Homo sapiens: one gene and its partners. The protein of the gene in region 1 interacts with the protein of each later gene in a pairwise test. Each region holds a gene or a part of one and is shown on either strand. Other genes may lie near its edges.

Evidence for each region. The genes of interacting proteins can lie anywhere in the genome.
Region 2: the proteins of FBF1 (region 1) and KRT13 interact in a two-hybrid assay, tested with the Homo sapiens proteins (one large-scale study listed by BioGRID).
Region 3: the proteins of FBF1 (region 1) and SSX2IP interact in binary tests that used the Homo sapiens proteins (3 or more experiments, as listed by UniProt).
Region 4: the proteins of FBF1 (region 1) and TMCC2 interact in a two-hybrid assay, tested with the Homo sapiens proteins (one large-scale study listed by BioGRID).

The regions. Positions count from the first base shown.
Region 1 is NC_000017.11:75,926,866-75,931,900, reverse strand, and holds part of FBF1 (fas-binding factor 1), read left to right. Parts: intron 1-611; coding exon 612-672; intron 673-1,853; coding exon 1,854-1,904; intron 1,905-3,707; coding exon 3,708-3,825; intron 3,826-4,368; coding exon 4,369-4,446; intron 4,447-5,023; coding exon 5,024-5,035. UniProt on the Homo sapiens protein: Keratin-binding protein required for epithelial cell polarization. Involved in apical junction complex (AJC) assembly via its interaction with PARD3. Required for ciliogenesis.
Region 2 is NC_000017.11:41,502,708-41,507,527, reverse strand, and holds the start of KRT13 (keratin, type I cytoskeletal 13), read left to right. Parts: upstream 1-1,915; 5' UTR 1,916-1,977; coding exon 1,978-2,472; intron 2,473-3,802; coding exon 3,803-3,885; intron 3,886-4,084; coding exon 4,085-4,241; intron 4,242-4,429; coding exon 4,430-4,591; intron 4,592-4,715; coding exon 4,716-4,820.
Region 3 is NC_000001.11:84,645,357-84,649,728, forward strand, and holds part of SSX2IP (afadin- and alpha-actinin-binding protein), read right to left. Parts: intron 2,252-4,372; coding exon 2,077-2,251; 3' UTR 1-2,076. UniProt on the Homo sapiens protein: Belongs to an adhesion system, which plays a role in the organization of homotypic, interneuronal and heterotypic cell-cell adherens junctions (AJs).
Region 4 is NC_000001.11:205,230,179-205,234,550, reverse strand, and holds part of TMCC2 (transmembrane and coiled-coil domains protein 2), read right to left. Parts: intron 775-4,372; exon of another isoform or gene 408-774; intron 1-407.

The DNA.
Region 1 (5,035 bases):
CTAAGATAAGAATGAATACCCCACAGATGAGAGATAGGGAGGAATTTTCTGAGCCCTCCTCCCTCTTGTGATCTGGAGCAGTTGTTTTTCTTACTTTTTTTTTTTTACTTTATTTTTTGAGACAGAGTCTTGCTCTGTCGCCCAGGCTGGAGTGCAGTGGCGCAATGTCAGCTCATTGCAGCCTCCACCTCCCGGTTCAAGTGATTCTCCTGCCTCAGCCTCCTGAGTAGCTGGGATTACAGGTGCCCGCCACCACGCCTGGCTAATTTTTGTATTTTTAGTAGAGATGGGGTTTCACCATGTTGGCCAGGTTGGTCCCAAACTCCTGACCTCAAGTGATCCACCTGCCTCGGCCTCCCAAAGTGCTGGGATTACAGGCATGAGCCCCCACACCCAGCCCTATGGTTTTTAACAATTTGTTTTTGAAGCAGTTCTACTGCTAACAAAGTTGAAAATCACTGCATCAGGTGGCCTGTGACATTCCTTTTAGCACCTCTGTTCTCCGGAGAGACCTATCCGAGATTCCTTGGGCTTTCTAAGCTACTCCTCCCCTTTTTAGAGTCATCCAGTGCCCTGGGATGCAGGTAGGGGCTGACGCCTCCCCTTTGCAGGTCCCTCCTGGGTGATGATGTCTTCAGCACCATGGCAGGCCTGGAAGAAGCTGATGCTGAGGTGAGCCTGGCTGTTTCCCTCCACCTCCCTACTTATCCCCAGAAACACTGAGATGGGTGTTGTGGCCAAGGGGCTGCCCACGGAAGGGTTTAGAAGTCCCTGCAAAGTCACTTTGTTCTTTTTGTTTGTTTTTTGAGATGGAGTCTCCCTCTGTTGCTCAGGCTAGAGTGCAGTGGTGTGATCTCGGCTCACTGCAACCTCTGCCTCCCGGGGTCAAGCAATTCTCCTGCCTCAGCCTCCCAAGTAGCTGGGCTTACAGGTGCCTGCCACCATGACTGGCTAATTTTTGTTGTTGTTGTTTTTGTTTTGAGATGGAGTCTCCCTCTGTCGCCCAGGCTGGAATGCAGTAGTGCGATCTTGGCTCACTGCAATCTCCGCCTCCTGGTTCAAGCGATTCTCCTGCCTCAGCCTCTTGAGTAGCTGGGATTACAGGCACCCACCACCACGCCTGGCTGATTTTTGTATTTTTAGTAGAGATGGGGTTTCACCCTGTTGGTCAGGCTGGTCTCAAACTCCTAACCTCTTGATCCACCCACATCGGCCTCTCAAAGTACTGTGATTACAGGCTGACCCACCGTGCCCAGCCAAAGAAAATAATTTTTGTATTTTTAGTAGGTAATTTTGTATTTTTAGTAGAGACGGGGTTTCACCACATTGGCCAGGCTGGCCTCAAACTCCTGACCTCAAGTGATCTACCCGCCTCGGCCTCCCAAAGTGCTGGGATTACAGGCGTGAGCCACTGTAAATAATGCCCAAGGGCTGCCGAGTGGACCCAAAGCAGAATCCTCTTTCCTGTAGTAAGATGAGTGGAAAGGAGAGCTCCCTGAAACTGCTAGAGTCTTAGATGTTGCTCCTTTCCCCTTATAAACTCCATAGCTGTCCATTGGCATGGGTGGGAAGTAGCAGAATTTCAGTCCTGGATGGAAGAGTTCTCTATGGTTGGAAGGAGTAGGAATGGCAGTGCTCTCTGAGTCTCTAAAACCAGGCAGGTTTGGCTTCAAACAACTGCCAAGCCCAAGCAAGGGGAACAAAGCCACCCTCCTGTGTAAGCTCCATTGGCCAAGCTCTGCTCCTGCCGCGCCGTCTGCCCTAACAGAAGCAAGGGGCCAGGACCCTGAGTTTTATTGGGCCTTGACTAATGTGCCTCCTCATCTGTGTCCTCACCCTCATTGTGGACTTAGGTTTCAGGTATCTCAGAGGCAGACCCACAGGCTCTGCTCCAGGCCATGAAGGTAAGGAAACAGCTTGCACGATTCTTAGAACTGGGGGTGGGTGGGGTGGGGTCATGATATTTTGTACCAAAGCTTCATTCTCCTTCTAATTTCTCCCTTTACAACCTGTGTTTCTGAGCCCTTCCTCGTGCAAGCATGGAACTCGTCTGTGAGCCGTTGGCCTCCTTGCCTTTCTGAGTATCAACCAGTGTTCCTGGTATATAGAGAGTGGAGAGTGCCACAGGCCTCTGGGGAAACGGGGCCAGCTCTACTCGGAGGCCCACCTAGCTGGGTCCCCTCACCTCCACCTAGAAGACAGAGGGGGAGACTCTTTCCTCTAATGCTTGTTCTTAATCTTTCTCCATATTTCTCTCCACATCCCCTGCCAAGCCCCCTTCAATACTGCTGTCTTCTCATCAGATCAAGCCCAGCGCCAATCTTTGCAATGGATTTTTAAGGCACAGATTCTGAATAATTTGTAAGGACATAATCTCTAGCTTGGCCTAAGACACCTTGTTCTCCCTCTCCTTCCAGCCAGCAGCACCTTCCTGTCTGACCCTTGGGGTTTTGTGTCCCTTTTAGTTAACCCATTTTGCCACAGTCCCTAGGACAAAGCCGCGTTTTTGGTTACAGCCCTGTGGGGCTCTTGTTTTTGTTGTGTATTTTTGTTTTTTGGGTTTTTTTTTAGAGACACCATCGCATTCTATCACCCAGGCTGGAGTGCAGTGGTGTGATCTCATTGCAACCTTAAACTCCTGGCCTTAAGCGATTCTCTTACCTTGGCCTCCCAAAATACTGTAATTACAGGCATGAGGCACCACACCCGGTCCAGATTCAGCTTCTTTAATCTCATCTTGAAATCTTTCTCCTCAAAGGCCAGGCACCTGTAATCCCAGAACTTTGGGAGGCCGAGGCAGTAGGCTCGCTTGAGCCTAGGAGTTGGAGGCTGCAATGAGCTATGATCACACCACTGCACTACAGCCTGGGTGGTGACAGAGTGAGACTCTGTCTTCAAAAAAAAAAAAAAAGTCTGGCATGGTGGCTTACTCCTGTAATGCCAGCACTTTGGGAGGCCATGGCAGGTGGATCACTTGAGCTCAGAAGTTGGAGGCTGCAATGAGCTATGATCGCACCACTTCACTCCAGCCTGGGTGACAGAGTGAGACTCTGTCTTTATTTTATTTTATTTTTAATTTATTTTTATTTTTTTGAGACGGAGTCTTGCTCTGTTGCCTAGGCTGGAGTGCAGTGGCATGATCTCGGCTCACTGCAACCTCCACCTCCCAGGTTCAAGCGATTCTCCTACCTCAGCCTCCCAAGTAGCTGGGATTACAGGCGTGCACCACCACACCCAACTAATTTTTGTATTTTTTGTAGAGACAGGGTTTCATCATGTTGGCCAGGATGGTCTCGATTTCTTGACCTGGTGATCCACCTGCCTCGGCCCAAAGTGCTGGGATTCTAGGCATGAGCCACCGCGCCCGGCCAATATCCTGTCTAAAAAAAGAAAAAAAAGAAAGCTTTTTTCCCGAGACCAGCCACCTAGGATCCCTGGGCATAACCCACAAGTCCTCTGACTCAATTTTTGGTGCTGACTTTGAGTCTCTCATCCCAGAACCATGAGCTGGACTCCATTCCACCTCCCCCTGCTTACCTTTAGTTCCATTTTCTTTCTTCACTCACTGTTTTTCTCAACAGTTTTCTCATTTTCCTTTGTTTTCTCACAATTCTACACCTGGGGTGCCAACAGCCCATCTCTCTCAGGTGGAAGTCCTCAGCCCCTTATCAGACATAGTCCTCTGCCCTCCCTCCCTGGTTTTCTAGGACCTGGACGGCATGGATGCTGATATCTTAGGTCTGAAGAAATCTAATTCAGCCCCTAGCAAAAAAGCTGCAAAGGACCCTGGGAAAGGAGAGCTGCCCAACCACCCCAAGCCTGCAGGTGGGTCAGTAGCCAGTGAGAAAGGTGCATGGGAGACGGCTCCTCGCATCTGCTAGGGAGACTTTGAGGACGTGGAAGATGCTAGTAGGAAGCGTTCATGTCCTTGGGTTTTCTCTGCACAGGATGGAGAGGCCAAGGAGCATTTGTGCGTGTGTGTGTTTGAGTGTGTGTGGTGGGGTAAGGGGACAGCTTGAGTTTCCTCCCTTCCTCGAGCTGTTCCAGGCCCTCTGGGTCCAACATGGGCAGCTCCTGGAGAAGCTGTGTGAGTTAAAATGGAGAACTCTATGGCAGCCTGTGCCTCTCCTGAACCCATGTCTCTGGAGTGACTCATGATGAGGAAGCAGAGGTAGCTCCTACCTCGTTTCCCTGCCAGAAGCCCATGGCAGAACTGGAGACTCCTCCCTTGGCTGTGCCCATGGCCATGAGCCCCCAGCTTCCCAGGAAGAAGTGCACCCCATCCCAGGGGCCCCAGTCCATGATATGGGAGGAGGACTTTGGCCAGGAGAGACTCAGGCCCATGACCTTGTCTTCTGCTTCCTGCAGGGGGTGCCATTCCCACCAAGAAGTCACTTCCGTCTCCCAGCAGCTCTGGGCATCAGAACAGGAGGTTTTCCTCTGAAGGTACCATAGGCTCCTGTCATGCCTCTGGGACACTCTGGTTTGGGAGTGGAGCAGCCTAGGCATGCTTGCTGGCCCGAGGCCCAGCTGCTGCCTATGTCACATGGGTGCCACTGGTTTACTTCCTCGTGAATTCATGTCGGGACCAGCTATATTGTATTGGCTGAGATATTAGGGAACTTATTTGCAAAGACCTTAAAGCCAGGCATCAAACTGAAGATCTTCCCAAGTATAGGAAGGAGCCCCTTTCCCGTCATGAATGTGTGGATATTTTACTTCTCTTCTGATGCTTGAGGGACATTTCCAGAAGGCCATGCAGCCTGCAGAGTCAGAGGCCCCACCGGCAAGCCTGAGGCAGGCCCCGTAGGTCCAGGGCCGCCCTCCAACTCCCTCTCTCCTTGCCCGGCCTGTCTTTTTGTGGAGTCCCCGTTGCCCCAGGCCCCACCCTCCAGATGCCAGGGGGCTTGTTTATGTACTGGAGCAGCTAGAAGCCTTGACTCGAGCGCTGCTCCCCAGTTCAGGCTTGCTTTTCCTCAACTAAGTGCTGCAGTCTGACCTGTGCTTTCCCTTCTGCTGTGAGACTTGGAAGACC
Region 2 (4,820 bases), about 34 Mb from region 1:
CTGGCAACGTGCCCTGGCTCTGTCCCTGCTGATACCCCTGCGGGAAGCACAGGCCCGCTTCTCTACCCCAGAAAACAAAGGCCCAGAAAGCCCTGACTCAGATTTCTCCTTTCTGATCTTGCTGAATCAGTGAAGGGGGTTCCAGGAGAACCTCATGCCTGTGCCACCCCACCCAGCCCCTGGCCTGGTATCATCCAGACCTTTGTGGCTGCTGTGGGCCAGAAAGCTGCTCCCAAGATGCCATCCACAGCAACCCTGGCCCCTTGGTGAGTGGGGCCTGGGAGTCTGCATTCAGGGTCCTCCATTGTCAGCCCTGGAATGGAGGACCTTCTATCCTGGCCTCACAGATGCCATCTGAGGTCCTTTTCTCCCAGCCTGAATGGGGAAGCTCCCTCTGGCAGGGTTCTTACATAGTCCCTGAGTTTCTCAGCCACATCTCAGGATCCTAAGCTGAGACCCTGGCCCTGGGTCCTGTGTCACATCCTCTTATGTGGCCTCTTGGCTGGGACAGACCTCATATGACTGGCGTACTAGAAAGGACCCTGCTCACATTATTACAGGGCCGTCTTCCTGGATGTGACTGTGCCCTAAAGCAGTCAGCGTAATGGAGTGATTCAACCCGAGGGCCAGACTGACCCAGGCATCTCAACCTCAACACTATTGATATTTTGGGTCTGATAATTCTTTGCTGTGGGGACAGTCCTGCACCTTATAGGATGTTTAGCAGCATACCTGGTGTTTAGCTATCAGTAGTGCCCCCAAGTTGTGACAACCAAAATGTTCCTAGACATTGTCAAACGTCCCCTGGAGAGCAAAGCAGCCTCTAGCTGAGGACCTCTGAACTTGTCTATGGGGACAGAAGTTGGAAGAGTGGTTACACCAGGGGTGTGGAGTCAGGTAATTGACTGGGAAAAGGTACAAGGACCTTTATGGAATGCTGGGAATGTCCTGGGTGGTGTTTACACAGGTCGTGCATACCCATGCGTGACATCAAGCTGGACACGTGATCTATACATTTTACTGTATGAAAAATGTACCTAAAAAATGCACCTTAGCGTCAGACAGAACCAGACTTGGATTTCAGTCCTGATTCTGCCCTTAAGGTTCATTTTCCTCATGTGTAAATGGGGGCAATAGTAGGACCCTCCTCCTGTGGCTGCTGTGAAGGTTAAATGAGATGATGAGTGTAAAGTAACTTCACCCAGTTCCTGCCTATGGTGAGGGCTCGGAGAATATTCGCTATGATAATGGACAGGGCCACTTCCTCTTTCCATGCCTGAGTTTCCACAGCTGTGTCTGATGGTCCCTAAGATCCCTTAAGGTCTCTGTCACTGTGACTTTTTCTGATGGCCTCGGAGCTATTTCTTTCTCAGTCTAAATACTTTCAAGGCAGGTGATTCTATCGAACCAAGCAAAGTTTGTCATCAGAGTTGCTGGGGCCCCTGGAGTAGATGAAGTGCTAAGAAGGATCCAGGACATCCCAGTCAGAAGTTTTAGGTATAGAAAAAAGGAAGGTCGAGGGCTACGGTGACCTTGCAAAGCACAGAGCCACTCTGCACCCACCACTTTCCTCGCAGAAGCTCCTGGCAGGCCTCCGCATCTCAGGTCCCGTTCTAATACTGGGTGGGGCTCAGAGCCTGCACAGTGAACTCCTTAAGTGGAGGTGAAACAGAATTCACTTGTCAAAAGGGCAGTCTCAGGCAGAATGCTGTCCCCTCTGAATCATTCTTTTTGTTAAGGATTAAAAAAAAAGCCACCCCCAAAAGGCACAACCCACCCTGGAGAGATCAGAGATAACTAAGCTTGTGGGAAACAGAAGTGTAGTTGGCACCAAGTCAGAGGGTGGGGAAGGGAGGAGAGAAGATAACCAGCCCCTATGGAGGTGTATAAAAGGTGTCCACTCTGGGGAAGAGCCACAGTCCTCGGCCCAGGCCAAGCAAGCTTCTATCTGCACCTGCTCTCAATCCTGCTCTCACCATGAGCCTCCGCCTGCAGAGCTCCTCTGCCAGCTATGGAGGTGGTTTCGGGGGTGGCTCTTGCCAGCTGGGAGGAGGCCGTGGTGTCTCTACCTGTTCAACTCGGTTTGTGTCCGGGGGATCAGCTGGGGGCTATGGAGGCGGCGTGAGCTGTGGTTTTGGTGGAGGGGCTGGTAGTGGCTTTGGAGGTGGCTATGGAGGTGGCCTTGGAGGTGGCTATGGAGGTGGCCTTGGAGGTGGCTTTGGTGGGGGTTTTGCTGGTGGCTTTGTTGACTTTGGTGCTTGTGATGGCGGCCTCCTCACTGGCAATGAGAAGATCACCATGCAGAACCTCAACGACCGCCTGGCTTCCTACCTGGAGAAGGTGCGCGCCCTGGAGGAGGCCAACGCTGACCTGGAGGTGAAGATCCGTGACTGGCACCTGAAGCAGAGCCCAGCTAGCCCTGAGCGGGACTACAGCCCCTACTACAAGACCATTGAAGAGCTCCGGGACAAGGTGAGCCCTTGGAAGCTGAGGAGGGGTCCTCCATGAAGGGCAGAGCCTCCAAGGCCAAGAAACACAGTGTTGTGGGGGACTAGGTGTGGACGGAATTCACAAACTTCTTGCAGGGGAAAAGCCTACTGTTTGACTACCAAGAGTCTCTACCTCTGATGGGCTTTCTCATGCCACAACTCCCCAAATGCATTTTCTCTCATTATTCATTTTTATGATTGTTATTACTCAGGTCAGTTTTTTTACTGCTTTCCAGACAGTTATGTTATTCATGACTCGATCTCTATAATCCTAACCTACTGAGTTATCTGGAAACATGACAGGTTTAAAAGCCATTAAGAATGCATGAAATCAACAGAGAAAGAGAGACGTGTTCATTCATTGCCCTGGGAATAATTGTTTACTTTGTAGGGGACCCATTCAAACTGGTATTCTCAACTGGCGATGGCCAAGTTGGGGGAGAGAGAGGCAGAGGCTTAGGCAGTGCCGAGCCTGGGTGCCCTTTGTTGAGCCCTGTCTGTTGTGCTGTGATACCAGCCTGTTGGAGCAGAAATCTACCAGCCTGGGCTGAGTCTCAGCCATGTGGAGCAGGCTTTCACTGCTTTGGAATATAAACGTTTAGACAAGAAATTCAAAGGGATGGGAATATTTGTTGGATTTCCCCTCCACTCAGCTGGGAAGTCAGCTCTAGCAAAGTGATTGTGAGATATGTGGCACCAAGCCGAGTCCCTCCTGACTTTCAGGGGATGGATCTCAAGACAGTGGCCTAGGGAGGGTGCTAGTCTGAGGCTGCCAAGACATGACGAACCAAAGATGTTCTCAGCAGGTCGTTCCTCAGAAATGCACTCCCTGCATCTCCCCCAGGGTGCTCAGACATGGAATATTAAAGTGTTAGAAACGATTGGAGGGGATGCAGCCCCACTCCTCACTTTACAGAAGAGCAATGGAGGCCCAGAGGGAAATGCCTTGTCCCAGCTCACAGGACAGTTTAGAGGTAGAGCCCCATGGGAACCAGGTCCTGCCCATGTTTTCCCAGGCCACCTCCTCAAGCACGTGGACCCCCCAGAGCAAGCTTGTCTAACCTGTGGCCGGTGGGCTGCATGTGGCCCAGGACAGCTTTGATTGAGGCCTAACACAAATTTGTAAGCTTTCTTAAAACATTGAGTTTTTTTTTATTTTTTATTTTTGCCAATTTCTTTTTAGCCCATCAGCTATCGTTAGTGTTAGCGTATTTGATGTGTTGCCCAAGACAATTCTTCTTCCAATGTGGCCCAGGGAAGCCAACAGACTGGACACCCATGCCCTAGAGGTTACCTTCTTCTGCATTTTGTAGATCCTGACCGCCACCATTGAAAACAACCGGGTCATCCTGGAGATTGACAATGCCAGGCTGGCTGCGGACGACTTCAGGCTCAAGTGAGTTTTTTTTTTCCCCCTCCCTCTCCTTTCCCAGGAGTCTCTTAGTTTAGACAAAAGCTCATCTGACCAATGACACTGGAGCATCCCAGGAGTGAAGGTCTGGAAGTACTGGAGTCTCGTGCAGGGGTAGGGAGAATGTCTCATATCATTTATGTCTTGCTTTTTCAAAAAACATTTCATTTTTTTACTATTTTAGGTATGAGAATGAGCTGGCCCTGCGCCAGAGCGTGGAGGCCGACATCAACGGCCTGCGCCGGGTGCTGGATGAGCTCACTCTGTCTAAGACTGACCTGGAGATGCAGATCGAGAGCCTGAATGAAGAGCTAGCCTACATGAAGAAGAACCATGAAGAGGTGAGCGGGAATTGCAGGCTGCCCTGGGCTCAACAACCTCCAGTGAGAAGGAGGAGCCCTCCCCTGCAACTGGACACAGTCCTCCACTGTGGGACCTGGAAACACTCTCCAGAACACTCTGCCAGCACTCAGAGCCAAGGAGAGGGAGGATGAGTAGCCTCACACATCTTCCTTTCCCATCCCCACAGGAGATGAAGGAATTTAGCAACCAGGTGGTCGGCCAGGTCAACGTGGAGATGGATGCCACCCCAGGCATTGACCTGACCCGCGTGCTGGCAGAGATGAGGGAGCAGTACGAGGCCATGGCAGAGAGGAACCGCCGGGATGCTGAGGAATGGTTCCACACCAAGGTACCCGGCCCTCCCACCCCACATAGCCCATCCCATATAGCCAGGGGGGCCGGGCGGACACAGCCTCTTGGTCAGGCTGCTCGAGCTGAGCTTCCCCACCACCTTCTTCCTGCTTGCATTTCAGAGTGCAGAGCTGAACAAGGAGGTGTCTACCAACACTGCCATGATTCAGACCAGCAAGACAGAGATCACGGAGCTCAGGCGCACGCTCCAAGGCCTGGAGATTGAG
Region 3 (4,372 bases), on another chromosome or scaffold:
CTTCTGGATCTATGCAGACATTGAAGGTGCAATGAGTCTGGCTTTTACTCTGCTGTTTCTTTCACACTTTAGATTTTAAAAGTACGTCTCAAGGAATCTTTCTTTCCAATTTGAGAACTCAACTCACTTTAAAATGGAAACACGCAACAAAAAACAGATGCTGCTTTCTAGAACTCCATTGTCATGAAATATAATATTTGCTAAAATAAGAGATTTACTTTAAAAATTAGAGTGCTTATTTCTTGCAAAGTACACCATGGAAAACCCTCGGGGGAAAATTGTTGCCAAATGTATCCATTAACTGTATTTAAAATTTCTGATTGCCTTTTTGACCATGTTATTGCTAAATAGCAAAACAAACAAAAACAAAAACAACAAAAATCCTATATCCCAGCTAGATTTCTTCCTTTAGCATATGGTAGTGTCTTCGATATTTTGTACAATGTGTAGTATTTTAAATAGTAAAGAAGTGACCATGCATCAAGCTGAAGGTAGTGACTAATGCTCAAGAGCTAGCTCTTTAAAACTATAAATATGGTTACTATGAGTATATCCACTAATGTCTCATAAGACACTCTTAATGATATCCTATCAGCCCTGAAAAAATGGCTGCTGCTATGCAACTCCAAAGAGTTACATAGTTACGTATAGTGAATGGACAACACAAATAGGTGGGTTTTTTTTGTTTTTTAATAATATGAATTTAAAATAGCCACAAACAGGGTGAGTGCATGTAAGCGGCTGAACTGCCAGTACAGGGGAAGGTAAATGGGCCTAAACTATGATACCTAGCAAGGGTTGGATCTGTGCAGGCTTCTATGTACAGAGACAAGCAGGGTTAGGCACTTAAAGCTTTTTGATGAAAATCCTGGGAAAGAGCTGAGCCTACATTTATTATTATTACTATCAAAACAACAACATACTTTTCATGAAGAAACATGCAATCAGAAACATTACAGAGACTGAAGAGAGCTTAAGAGTTTTCTGAAAATGAAATGACATGTTTTTCCAGAGTATCATCTCAATTATAAAATTTGATGGTTTTATATTATCATATTTCTTCAGTGGTAAATACCTCATTAAAAAATTATTAAAAAATTATTGACAATACAAAGCCCTAGTTAGTATACAGATATTACTATACTGGTACCCATCTTGTAAGGAAAATATCACCATCTAGATATCTTAAATATCTTCTATCATCCAATATCTTAAACCAATTTCTTAAATTGTTTTATTCAAAGGTACTTTTGTCGTCTTGCCCCTATTCTTCTATCATCAATAGTCCTTTTAAAAATTATAATATTCTACATATACAAAATAAAAATCTAATGTCATAAAAATCTCAAAAATGTAATGTTAGTAGTGTTGATTATCTAAAGAACTCAGCTTCATGGAATACCTTTCAATATTTATTGCCCAGATGTATTAAAGAGAATTCTTAAATGTAATGCATCAATGGTCCTAATACATCTGTAAACAGAATACCACTAAAAAAATTTTACTGGCATGAAATACTATACTTATGGTTGTGTGAAACTTTTAAATCTTAAAGCCTCTTAACATAATCATGTGTATCTATGTACAAAACATACATAAATTTCACTTTATTTAAAACATATGAAAGAGGTAATTTCAAACCACACTAAACATAATAAATATAGAACTCGCTTTGTTAAAAATCTACAGTATACATTCAAGTAAAGGCTAAACTTCCAATGCCAACTATATTTGAGACAAAATTAAACATTTACAATAATCAGTTTCCTAAAAGTGCTATTTTTAATACCTATAAGAGGAAACTCAGTCTAGTGCTTTTGTTTCCATCCAAACATCTATACATTCCTTTATTCACAGAACCAGATGCTTCTGTTACTAAAAATACATATCCAAAGCTTTTATATCCTTTTAAATAGATTTAAGATTTCAACTCTTTGGGGGAAGACAGGGAAGTCCAAACAAACAACTCAGACCATCTTAAGTTATTAGAGATAACTGACTTTATGACACACCCTGTTTCAACTTAGATGTGAAACTTGATGAACACATTAATGAAAAAAATTCCAGTCCACATGTCTAAGGTAAGTCATCTTTTTCTACATGAGAATTTGTGTAGCTCAAGGAGCATCCACTATAGCAACCTTCCTGTGATCCAGGTCTTGATGCCACACTCCATTTTTGATTTGTACATTCTCCTCCAACCTGATTTGGTTTAATTTCTTCAGCAGTTATATTCAGTACATTGATTGAACTGTTGGGAAAAGAAAGGCAGATCTTAGTGACTATCCTCTCCTTCTTTTGTACTTTAACCTCATAATGTGGCACTCTTCAAAAAAAATAAGTTCCTTTTAATTCTAAAAATCTAGGCCAAAAATATAATTTAAAATTTTACTTGGAAAAAAAAAACGGCTGGGAGCAGTAGCTCACACTTGTAATCCTAGCACTTTGGGAGGCTGAGGCAGCCGAACTGCTTGAGCCCAGGAATTCAGGACTAGCCTGAGTAACATGGTGAAACCCTGTCTCTACAAAAAATTAGCTGGGAGTAGTAGTGCATGCCTAGTTTAATCATTTGTACAAGGGATTCTGATGACCAAATTACTATAAATTTATTTACCAATACTTATAGTAATTCGGTCATCAGAATCCCTGTACAAATGATCAAACTAAGTTTTTTAGGTAACTTACGCACAAGTCTCCTTGCCTGGAATCTAAGGCACAGCCTTTATATAAAATTCCATTCTACAGTGAAGGAACAATGAGGATGTTGTAGAAATTAGCTACAAATACTCCTAATTATTTTGTTGCAATATTAATATAAACCGAGATCCAAAATGCTTCAGGAGCAAGAGAACCAAGTTTATCAAATAATTTAAAATGTGAAGAACCAAGTCAGGCTGCACAGCTTCTCTATTAGTTATAAAACTTTTTTCTGTTTGTTTTATTCTTAGAGGCTAGTTAACAATGAATACCTTGAATTTCTTTAAGCTCCAAAATTGTTTCTATGCCACGGATGTTGTTTAGTGGAGCACTCAGAAACAAAAAAAGCATGTTTATATTTGTTTACATATATTTTTATTTTTATAGTCTGTCACTAAATGTTTTTAAGTGCTTTACATACATTAACATTTAACTTGCAACACCCTATGATTTAGGTACTAAATGCTGAACTTTATTAAACATAAAACAATGTCTTCAAGAAATGTTTATGTCAAATATTTCACAACTAAAAATGATGTAAAAAGCTAAATATTTAAAATATATAAAAACAATTGAGACAACTATGTTATGCTATCTCTTAGATATAAAATGCATTATTTGTGAATGGTGGCTAGAATTTGTGTCTATATCTATACAGATAGTTCTGACTGGTCAAATTTAGAAGTTTGAATAACATTCTATGTAAGAAAATACTATAAGCTTACACATTATCTTTTGATTGTAAAATAAATAAACTTTCACTTCCCATATTCAACTCATCTACTGGTCTAACTTCAAAATAGATCCCAAATCCAAGCATTTCTTCCTTCATATTATGACCCTAGTCCAATTACCATTGTCTTTCGTTTCCACTCCAATAGTGCCTCCTAACTGGATTTCCTGGTTTATATTACAGACTCCTACAATCTGTTTTCAATATTATAAAACAGTAATCTTTTTAAAACTTAAGACTTTTTTTCACTCTCTTGCTTAAAACTAGTGTTTTTTCTATTCCCCTTAGAACAATATTTGACCTGCAAATGCACACTAAAATATTCTGTAAATGAAATCCCAGATGTGTTGGGGCTGGGGTGGAGAGAGCAAGCAGAGTGGGATTATATATGAACAATATTGATCAGAGTTAATAATTGCTGAACCTGAGTCATAGGTACACGTGGGTTCACGATCTTATCCTCTCTGTATATTTGAACTTTTACATCTCTCCATCCTCATCTCACACCTCTAGGTCTTGGTCACCATTGCAAATGTATGAGGTGTGTCCCACCCTCAGGGTTCCTACACTTGGCTAGAGTGCTCTTACCTAGCTCTTTTTCATCCCCTCTAACATTTACTTGGAGTCCTAATCCCCCCACCTCTTAAAAGTCAACTACAACTTATAGTGTGTTCTCCTCCTTCTTTTAAAAGCTTCCTTTCTTGTTTTAAACTCCATCTATTTCATAATTCTTGGCCCAAGGGCCAGCTGGCTTCTTCGACACTTAGTTCCACTCCAGTCTCTAACACAGGCCGAGTTTGCTTCAGCTCTGACTGTTTTCCAAGGCCATTATCTCCTACTTTTAATTAAGAGCAAAGAGATTACCACCATACTTTCCAACTTACCCCTCTGATCTTTTCTATTCCTCTCTGTCTTACTAGGAATGTTCTACCTGCTTCCTCT
Region 4 (4,372 bases), on another chromosome or scaffold:
TCTTAGAAGTATTTCATCCTATTTGACCTGGAGATCAGCTGGAGGTGAGGCCAAATAACTAATTTCCCATTTCCTTTTTGTTTGTTTGTTTTGTTTTTTATTTTTGAGACAGAGTCTCGCTCTGTCGCCCAGGCTGGAGTGCAGTGGCACGATCTCGGCTCACTGCAACCTCCGCCTCCCAGGTTCAAGCAATTCTCCTGCCTCAGCCTCCAGAGTAGCTGGGACTACAGGTGCCCGCCACCATGCCTGGCTAATTTTTCTGTATTTTTGGTAGAGATGGGGTTTCACTGTGTTAGCCAGGATGGTCTTGATCTCCTGACCTCATGATCCACCCATCTCGGCCTCCCAAAGTGCTAGGATTACAGGTGTGAGCCACCACGCCTGGCCTCCCATGTCCTTGTTTTTAGGTATACTTCAATTCTACCTCCTCTGATAAAACTTATCCCAGGCGTCCGGCTCCCACCTGAGATTGCAGGAATCTTCAAGCCTTAACATATCTACTGGGCCTCAAGATGCAGCAGGCCCTCAGAGAGCCATCGCAACCATCACAACACTCCTGGAGAGCCCCAGGGAACGTACATATCTTCATTCCACCTACGTTCTTATGAAGTAGCTTGTCTTCTCCTTCATTTAAAAAATGAAGAAACTCTCCACTCTCACTGCTTCATTTGACTACCCTTTAAAAAAAAAAGGAGAAACTGAGACCTATAAATTTTATCAAAACCCTGAGCCTTGAAAAAATATATATATAAGAAATAAACAAATAGAAAACAAGCAGGTGCTTCTCGGGAATGTCAGTTTTTTTTTTTCCTTGACTTGGGTAGATGAGGTGTCTGCTTTGCTTCTGTTATTTAAACTGCGTACATGTTTTCAGGCACTTTTATAAGCATGTTTCACAATTTAATTCAGCAGCACCTTTCCTGCTGAAGGTGGTATCTGCTGACTGCATGAACCCTTCTCTAGTGGGCTCTCTGCAGGAGTGGTGAAGGAACACACGCCACTCACAGTGGGAGGAAGCTGCCTGTGACCACCAGGAAAGGCGGAGAGCCAGCAGGGAGAACCACACAGGACTCAGTTGTGACTTTCTCTCAGATATCTGGCTTCGAATTATCTTTCCTGCTCTTCACTAAGTAGGCAGGAAGACCAGTGTATGGTGTGACTGGAACATGAACTGGAACCCAAATGAGTCTTGAGTCAAAAGTGCTTCAAACCAGGAGGGGAATGATGGAATTTGGAGCTCCCCCTTTTTCTTCAGGGAAATATATTAATACTGCTCAGAAATCTCCAGGGAAATTACTTAAAGGGGCTTTTGTGAGAGGAAAGAGAACCTTAGGGGAAGTCCAGGGGGAAAGCCCATGGCCAGCATCCCCAGACACCTCCTTTCAGGAAAGACTCAATTCTTCCCACTGTGAGAGAGGTGGGGAGGTTGGTAATTTCCTCCCGTGCCTTCAGACTTCCATCACATATCAGGATAGAACCAGCTCACTCTTATGCTTGGCCACTCATCCTGGGCCTCAGAAGTATCTACCACACGTTGTGGTTTTTTTTTTTTTTTTCGGTTGTTGTTTTTTGTGTGTGTGTTTTTTTGTGTTTTTTTTTTTTTTTTTTTTTTTTTTGAGATAGGGTCTTGCTCTGTAGCCCAGGCTGGAGTGCAATGGCATGATCATGGCTCACTGCAGCTTCAACCTCCTGGGCTCAGGCGATCCTCCCACCTCAGTCTCCCAAGTAGCTGGGACTACAGGTGTGTGCCACTGCACTTGGCTAATTTTTGTATTTTTAGTAGAGACAGGATTTTACCATGTTGGCCAGGATGGTCTCAAACTCCTGGCCTCAAGTGATCCACCAACCTCGGCCTACCAAAGTGCTGGGATTACTGGCATGAGCCACCCACCGCTCCCGGCCCGTATGCTGTATTCTTAGCAGGAATGTGTGCTCCCTGTCTGCAGTATTCCCCTAAGCCCCACCTCTCCTCCCATATGCAATGGAACTGGGTTTTCTTGCTGTAGAATTGTGGTGTACTTTTGGTCAGCCAGCACTCTCTGTGGCTTAGCAACCCCAGCATCTCCTCCCAACAAGCAGGGAATCTGTTAGCAGCAAAAGGCTGGGCAATAAGGACAAATGAATCGAAACATGAACTCGAGTGTTTCAACAGGAATCCAAGCTGCAAGTGGCTGAAGAATGGGACTGAATTGTTGTGCTCCTGTTGCAGGATGTCTACTGAGATTTTCCCCGAAGGTCCCACAGGTGTGTGGAACAGTTGAGAAGGCCCTCAATGTATCTGCATGAGCCTCCTGTGAGGCAATGTCCATTTTTAGGTTATTTTTCAATTACAGTTTTAAAATTGCTGCTTAACTACTACTTTTCACTGGCCCTTCCCACCCTATAATCACAGATCCCAGGGCACTGTAGCAGAAATTTACAGTGTACAGTAAGATGGTCCACAGTGCTGAAGGAACAGAGGGAGACCATAGGAGCCCATGAAACCACTAACTGTCACTAAACACCATTCAGATTTCTTTGGCAAAGATAAAAATTCTCTCCTCTTCCAATACCGCCCCAACCTCTACGGAGGTGCTTTACACAGAGTCCTTTATTATTATTATTATTATTTTTGCCCCTTTCTCAAGATGATTTCTTCCAATGCACTTAATTCATCACAGTGCCTGGAGCTGTCATGAGAAAACAGAAATGGAACTAAGATACCAAAAGTTCTCATCTCCAAAGTTTAAAATGAAAACAAAAGCAAACCAGAACTGCTTATCTGCCTTGACCAAACACAGGTATGAGGTAGGGGAGCATTAAAAATTAAACACCCTTCTGTGGTACCACCATCAAATCTAAAACAAGTCAACTTCTACCCAGTTCCAGAGTCAATAATGGAATTTTTCTATCATTGGAAAACTGTGCCAGCATTGGAAAACAATTTTTCCAGCACTGGAAAGCAAGTTTGGAGGGGCTGGGCACGGTGGCTCACACCTGTAATCCCAGCTTTTTGGGAGAATGAGGCAGGAGTTTCGCTTGAGTCCAGGAGTTCAAGACCAGCCTAGGCAATATAGCAAGACCCTGTCTCTACAAAAAATTTAAAAATTAACCAGGCATGGTGGCGTGTGCCTGTAGTACCAGCTACTTGGGAGGCTGAGATTGGGGAGTCACTTGAGCCTGGGAGTTTGAGACTGCAGTGAGTCGTGGTCATGCTACTGCACTCTAGCCTGAGTGACAGAGCAAGACTCTGTCTCAAAATAAATAAATAAATAAGTTTGGACACACTCCGATATTCCTAGTCCCTTTCACCAGAAAAAGGCTCGGAAAAGTTGAGTGATTTGCCCAAGACCACACAGCAAATCAAACTGTGAAAGTCCCCAAGTCACATCTGGTTGGAAGTCCCTTGCACCCGGTAGTAAACATGTTGTGATGAAGCAGACAGAGATAAACAGGAAAAGCCCTGCTTGTTTCCCCATGCTCCCACAAGCAGGCTGCAGCTGGGTTTTCTGCTCCTTACTGGGTCCACATTGCTGGGTTCAATGGTATGTTTTCTCTGGGGGCGGGGGGGGGGATGGGGGGATGGGGTGGATGGGGGCGCGGGGTAAGGGGAAGCCTCCTTTTCTTACACCTGATTTCAATTCTGGTTGAGGGCAGTTCGGCAGTTAATATCAAGTGTAAAGTTGTTACTACATCTGCCCCTGACCAGAATGAGGGCACTGCCAAAAAAAAAGAAAGAAAGAAAGAAAAAAAAGATAATACAGGAGAGTGGAAACGTGGCATCCCTTAAGGCGTCCCTCTACAGAGACACTGCAGCCCCCATGCCATGACCAACCCATCTTCCTCATGAAGGCAACTGGGGGAATAAATGGAGAAAGCAGTTTCCACTGCTGTCCTGAGTTGGAGAGTGGGGAATTTCCAAAGCTGCCTCTCACAGACTCAGCTGAGGGTCTCATTGGTCAAAGATTCAGGGTTTGCTGGCCAGACTCATCTGGACCGGCTCAGAATGAGGCTGAAGTCTGCAGCAGAAGGCTAGCCTCCTCCCCACAACAGCATTCAAGAGACCCCTTCCCCCTCACCATCTCACTTAAAACAGGAACTACACCTCCTGACCACATGGGATGGACTCGGGGGTGACAGCAGAGATAAACACCAAGGACTCCCTGGGCCTGGCAAAAGCTCAAGCTTCTTGTGCAGAGAGAGCCTATCCCACAGAGATCCTCTAGACATAAGTCTAGCCACGAAGCTCTGAAAAGGACGGCGGCAGAACCAGAGTTCAGATTTGAATAATTACTGCAAAGTTTAAAAAACACACACAACAATAACCTAGTCGTCCCCCTTTTCACTCCTCCCCAAGGCACACAGACAGGTAACATACACAGGTAAGAGCACA